2 linked regions of the Homo sapiens genome follow. The protein of the gene in region 2 interacts with the protein of the main gene of each other region in a pairwise test. Each region holds a gene or a part of one and is shown on either strand. Other genes may lie near its edges.

What was found.
Region 1: the proteins of CRYBA4 (region 2) and FHL5 interact in binary tests that used the Homo sapiens proteins (3 or more experiments, as listed by UniProt).

What each region holds. Positions count from the first base shown.
Region 1 is NC_000006.12:96,569,628-96,573,127, reverse strand, and holds part of FHL5 (four and a half LIM domains protein 5), read right to left. Parts: intron 1-3,500. UniProt on the Homo sapiens protein: May be involved in the regulation of spermatogenesis. Stimulates CREM transcriptional activity in a phosphorylation-independent manner.
Region 2 is NC_000022.11:26,624,963-26,628,065, forward strand, and holds part of CRYBA4 (beta-crystallin A4), read left to right. Parts: intron 1-518; coding exon 519-660; intron 661-3,103. UniProt on the Homo sapiens protein: Crystallins are the dominant structural components of the vertebrate eye lens.

The sequences.
Region 1 (3,500 bases), on a different chromosome or scaffold from region 2:
AAATATGAATGAATGAATTACATGTATGTATGACTTTTTGGTACTGTCAAAGATAATAAATAGTTTGATACCTTGATCAGGAGAACGGTTAATCTTCTTTCTAAAAGTATTAAAGGTCAGAGAGATAGCAGCAAGATAGCCAACTAGAAGCCCCTAGTGCTTATGCCTCTGTCAAAGACAGCCAGAACAATGGAAAAGCAGCTGCATTTTAAAACTAATAGAAACTTGGGTGAGCACAAAAACTCAGGATGGCTACATAGAGAATAAGGAAATGCCAGGCCTTCACCATCCCATCCCCCAAGTGGGATCAGCTGGAAGCCAGGAGGAACTTCTTATGGTGAGGAGGTAAGCAGGATGACTCCAACAATCTCCATCAACACCCTGGACACCAACAGACCTTCCCACTGGTGTTCTCTGCAGTCTTCTTAGGCACCAAGCCCACATGGTGAAGCTGCCTGGAGTCTATATAGCTGTGCTTAGCCAGAGAAGGAGTTGACACTGTGCCCCACCTGCTGTGGCCCATGTGACTATTGGCTATGGCATCTTGGAACAGGAACTACAGCTAGACTGAGCCTTACTCAAGGAGTAAGTAGTCATGGCTCCCCTTCATCCCTGAGACTAAACCACCCCTGAACCACCCCATCCCCAGAGCCCCACATCCCCAATATGTGCTGTTAACAGCTGTTAACACTTTTTCCTGTGGGGTCAAGTGGAGGTGGAATTGCTCTACCAACTCCTCCCCCTGCCCCTGCTGAAGCAGCATCCTGTCTCTTGGGAAAACAGTACCTTGGCTATTCAGAGCAGTCATGTCTCCCTGGTGTCTAAGTTGAAGTGGTGCCCTGCATCCTAGGAAATTGTGCCTTGGCCATCCAGAGCAGTCATGCACTCCATTACTTAAGCTGAACTGATGCCCCGCATCCCAAGAAAACAGTGCTTGTGCAGCCCAGAACAGTCACATCCTTCAAGCCTGAGCTGAAGTGGCACATTGTCCCTTGGGGAATTAGTGCTCTGGCTGAGCTGAGCAGAAACTGAGCTGAGACACCTTGCTCTATAAACTGAACAATTTTAGACTTCGATTCCCCAGCACTGGCCTAGCTCTCTAGAGTCTCAGATGCAGAAGTACCCCTCTATCTAGGGAGTGGAGTCATTGCTGTGTTTTTTCCTACCCACCTGTCACCCAGGGAACAAACAACAGCTGTCCTCCACCATTCTGGAGTACTGAAAGCAAATACACTTGGCCCCACACATTCTGGGATACTGCTGAGCACCACTATCCCAGGGTCTACAATCACTACTACCCAGTGCCTCATCCCTTGGAACCTGAGTTGACACTGAGCCCTATTGACTCAGGTTTCTGAATTGCAGCCATACCCTGCTCCCAAGGCCAAAGTTCCAGAGCACTCCTTATTCCCTGGAGTCAGGCCAGTGCTGTGCCCTGCCCCCCAGGGGTAGAATCACAGCTACAACCTGGCACCCTGAGCCTGAGCTGCTAGGGGGTCCCTCAGAATCATAGATCCTGGCTCTATGGGTAACCTACATCCAACCCTGCCACAAGGGGTGAAGCTGCACCCCAAGCCCAGTTGCCTCAATAGCTTTATGAGATACTGAGCTGAAAACTCCTACTGCATGTAGAATCCTGATCACTGCACGTAGAACCCATGCCACTGCAGCTGCTTGTAGGCCATGTCAGACTTGACACCAAAAGGGATGCGCTCAGCTAAGTCTCCTTATTTTAGAGAAAACCAGAATAGGAGGACCCCAGAAGCCCTTAACACAAAGAACATTAAAAACTTATGTTGCCAGTGCCATTGCCACAAACCTCTAAGCGTAGGCTATGAGGCACCCACAGTTATTCCTGACCTTGAATACAACTGAAGAAGCTGCACAGAGACTCTATCTCTATACCTATCTGGAAACAGAGTCACTACACCTTTTCTAACTGCACAGTAAAACTCAACTGCAGGATGAAAGACTTTCTTTATGAAAATCACTCCAGAAAGTTTGAAAAAGGTGATTATTTCACTAGATACACAGACATCAATGCAGGGACACAAGAAACATGAAAAAGCAAGGAAATAAGAGACCAACAAAGGAATATAATAACTCTCTAGTAACAGACTCCAATTAAAAGGAAATCAATTAATTGCCAAAAAAATGTAAAATAATGATTGTAAGGAAACTCAATTAGATACAAGGAAACACAGATACACAATTAAATAAAATAAGAAAAAAATTCACAATATAAATGAAAAATTCAATAAAGAGATAAAAATCATAAAAAGAACAAAACAAGAATCCTGCAGTTGAAGAATTCAATGAATAAAATATAAAATACAATAGAGAGCTTCAGCAGCAGACTTGATCAAGCAGAAAAAAGAATCTCTGAACTTAAAGCTAGGTCTTTTGAAGTTACCCAGTCAGAGAAAAGAAAAAAGAAATAAGAATGAAAATGAGTGAAGAATTCCTATAAGACTTATTGGAAAACATTAAACAAACAGATATTTGTATTATGGAATTTCCAGAAGGAGAAGATAAGGAAAAAGTATAGAAAGCCTGTTTAATAAAATAATAACTGAAAACTTCCCAATTTAGTGGTGGGGGTTGTGGAGGAGGGATATTTGAACATCCAGCTCCAGGAAACTCAAAATTCCCCAAATAGATTCAACCCCAAAAAGGTCCTCTTAGAGGTACATTATAGGCAAATTGTCACAAGTCAAAGACAGAGAGTTCTAAAAACAGCAAGAGAAAATTGTCAAGTCACATAAGAGAACTGCATTAGACTAGTAAATTTTGCTACAGAAACCTCACAGGCGAGGAGAGAATAGAGTTATAAACTCAAAATGGTGAAAGAAGAAAAAAAATTGCTAGCTAAGAATACTATACCCAGCAAAGTTATCCTTCAGAAATTAGGAAGAAATAAAGCCTTCTCGAGGTAAGCAAAAACTGAAGGAATTTGTCACCACTCACCTGGCCTTACCAGAAATGCTTAAGTGATTTTCACTTACATCTGGAAGTGAAAATCACTGTCATGAAAACACACCAAAAGTATAAAGCTCATTGGTAGAGCAGATATATGAGGAGAAAGAGAAAAGAATCAAACCTTGTCACTACAGAAAACCACCAAACCACAATGATTAACTATAAGAGAAAAAGAAAGGAACAAAAGATATACAAGACAACAGGAAAACAACAAAATGGTGGATGTTAAGTCCTCACTTATCAATAATAACCTTGGCTGTAAACAGACTAAATTCCCAACTGAAAAGATATAGACTAGCTGAATGAATTAAAAAAAAAAAAGACCTAAGTATATGCTGCCTAAAAGAAACTCACTTCACCTAAAAAGACACATATAGAATAAAAATAAGGGATGGAAAAAAAATCCATACAAATGGAAACCAAAAGCAAGGGAGAATAGCTATACTTATATCAGGTAAAGCAGACTTTAAACAAAAAGAGACAAGGTTATTTTCACTTCAGCAAGAAGATGTAACAATTGT
Region 2 (3,103 bases):
GGAGGAAAATGAGAGATGGCCATGCGGTCGCTCCTTGCAAGACTGCCCGTCTCCCACACCCTGGCAGGATCACGGGGAATTCCACCAAGGTGAGATCAGTCTGTGATCAGCTTTGCCTCCTTGGCCTCTGTGGACACGGACGGAGGAGCAAGGTTGTCAGGGCACCTGTGTGAAGCAGTTTCCCTACCTATGGGACACACAGCAAGTGAGGTCTAGAGCTGGGTTCCTCAACTCTGGCGCTACTGATGTTTCGGGCTGGATCATCCTTTGCAGGGAAGGCTGGCCTGTGCATTATGGGATGTTTAGTGGTATCCCTGGCCTCTACCCGATAGATGGCCTTCGCAGTCCCTCCCCTAGTCGTGACAACCAAAAATGTCTCCAGCCATCGTCAAGTGTTTCCTGGGGGCACAGTCACCCCTGAATGGTTGTGACTGTGACCGTTCTAGACCCAATTGCTGGTCTAGAATGCAGGGTGAGGGGGACGCTTACCTCCTGCACACTCTACCCTCTGTCTGCAGGTGGGTGGGCTTTGAGCATGCTGGCTTCCAAGGGCAGCAGTACATTCTGGAACGAGGCGAATATCCAAGCTGGGATGCCTGGGGCGGCAACACGGCCTACCCCGCCGAGAGGCTCACCTCCTTCCGGCCTGCGGCCTGTGCTGTAAGTTCTACCACTGCTGCATCCCGGGGAGGCCCAAGCCCCTCATGTGGGCACTTCGGAATCAAAGGTTCCAGAGTTGAAATTCTCATGTCGCCACTTCAAGCTGTGTGACAAGGGCTGTTCAGTCTCTTTCCTCTCCAAGCCTCGGTTTCTTCATCTTGAAATGGGGCAATAGTACCAATGTTCTTGGGAAGAAGAACGTATAACATCTGACCAGAGCCTGCCTTAAACTCTCTGCTCACAGCAACCCTGGTTGTGATAGGAGCCCCTGCCAGTTTTGTGCCCTTTTTTTTTTGTGATTCAGGGACCCTGAGAGAATCTGGGTACCAGGGATGGTAGGGCCAAGTGGAGAGGAAAGGTTTCATTTCTTGCTCCTAATTCAGCATCAGTGCTCCTGATCTTACATTTTACTGCTGTTTTTGGAGTGTGGGTGGAGGTGGGCATTATTATTCCCATCTCACCAATGAAAACATTGAGGCTCAGAAAGGTGTATTTTAGGCTGGGCATGGTGGCTCACACCTGTAATCCCAGCACTTTGGGAGGCCAAGGCGGGTAGATCACTTGAGGCCAGGAGTTCAAGATCAGCTTGGCCAACATGGTGAAACCCTGTCTCTACTGAAAATACAAAAAAATTAGTTGAGTGTGGTGGCACATGCCTGTAGTCCCAGCTACTCAGGAGGCTGAGGCAGGAGAATCACTTGAACCCGGGAGACAGAGGTTGCAGTGAGCCAAGATCGCACCACTGCATTCCAGCCTGGGCGCCAGAGCAAGACTCTGTCTCAAAACAAAACAAAACAAAAAAACAAAAACAAACAAACAAACACAAAAACAACAAAGTGTGTTTTATTTTTCAATTCTTATTGATTTAAAATGACATAAGTCACCATATTTACCATCCAAAATTCTGAAGGAAAATCCTGCTATGGTCAGGGTTGAGTATCCCTTACCTGAAATGCTTGGGACCAGAAGTGTTTTGGATTTTGAATATTTTCCCCAGATTTTGCAATATTTGTAATACTTACAGTTGAGCAGCCTGAATCCAAAAATCCAAAATCTGAAATACTGCAGTGAGCATTCTTTGAGTGTCATGTCGTCACTCAAAAAGTTTTAGATTTTGGAGCATTTTGGATTTCGGATTTTTAGGTTAGGGATGTTCAACCTATACATTTGTGTCTCTATGTATATACACATCCAAATCAACATCTACATCTATATCTGTATAATCTATATATCTTATCTATATTGCACACATAATTTTGTCATAAAATTGGAATCATAATGAATCTAAGGCTTGGAAACTAGCTTTTCTCACTGAGCAAATGTGTCGCAATCATCAGTCCAGGTGATTAAATCTCACTTCCATCGTTTTTCATAGCTCCCTAGTATTCTGTTTTGTGAATAAGTCCATTTGTTCATTTATTCTGCAAACAGTCTAGATATTGTGCTAATATAGGGACCCGTGGCGGGCTGCAACAGAAACAATCCCTCATTCCCAGCAGTTTGCAACTCCTGATTTCATTTAGTCCTCAAAAGAACCCTGAAAAATGGGTAGGGTTAGTTTCATTTTATAGATACAGGAACAGAGGCTCAGAAATCCTGTCTAACCTCAGTCAGTTGGTAAGTGGCAGCTGCCTCCTAGCAGGAAGGATTTGAGATGATATCTCTACACCTCCTTTCTTTCCTTCTTTTTTCTTTTCTTTTCTTTTCCTTTCCCCTCCCTCCCTCCCTCCCTCCCTCCTTTCTTTCTTTCTTTCTTTCTTTCTTTCTTTCTTTCTTTCTTTCTTTCTTTCTTTCTTTCTTTCTTTTTCTTTCTTTCTTTCTTTCCTTCTTTCTTTTTCTTTCTTTCTTTCTTTCTCTTTCTTTCCTTTTCTTTCTTTCTTTCTTTCTTTCTTTCTTTCTTTCTCTTTCTTTCCTTTTCTTTCTTTCTTTCCTTCTTTCATTCTCTGTCTTTCTTTTTCTTTCTTTTTCTCTTTCTTTCTTTCTCTTTCTCTCTCTCTCCTTCCTTCCTTCCTTCTCTCTCTCTCTTTCTTTCTTTCTTTCTTTTGATGGAGTTTTTGCTTTTGTTGTCCAGGCTGGAGTGCAATGCCACAATCTCGGCTCACTGCAACCTCTGCCTCCCAGGTTCAAGCGATTCTCCTGCCTCAGTCTCCCAAGTAGCTGAGATTACAGGCATGTGCCACCACGCTTGGCTAATTTTTTGTATTTAGTAGAGACAGGGTTTCACCATGTTCGTCGGGCTGGTCTTGAACTCCTGACCTCAGGTGATCCACCCTCCTCGGCCTCCCAAAATGCTGGGATTATAGGCGTGAGCCACCGCGCCGGGCCTCTACACCCTTTTTCTTAACCACAGTGTAATGCCTCAGCTTACCACTGGATCCCCAATTTTGGACATAAAAGTTGACTCCTTTTTTTGTTTGTTTGTTTTTGAAAAAACTGTTATGAT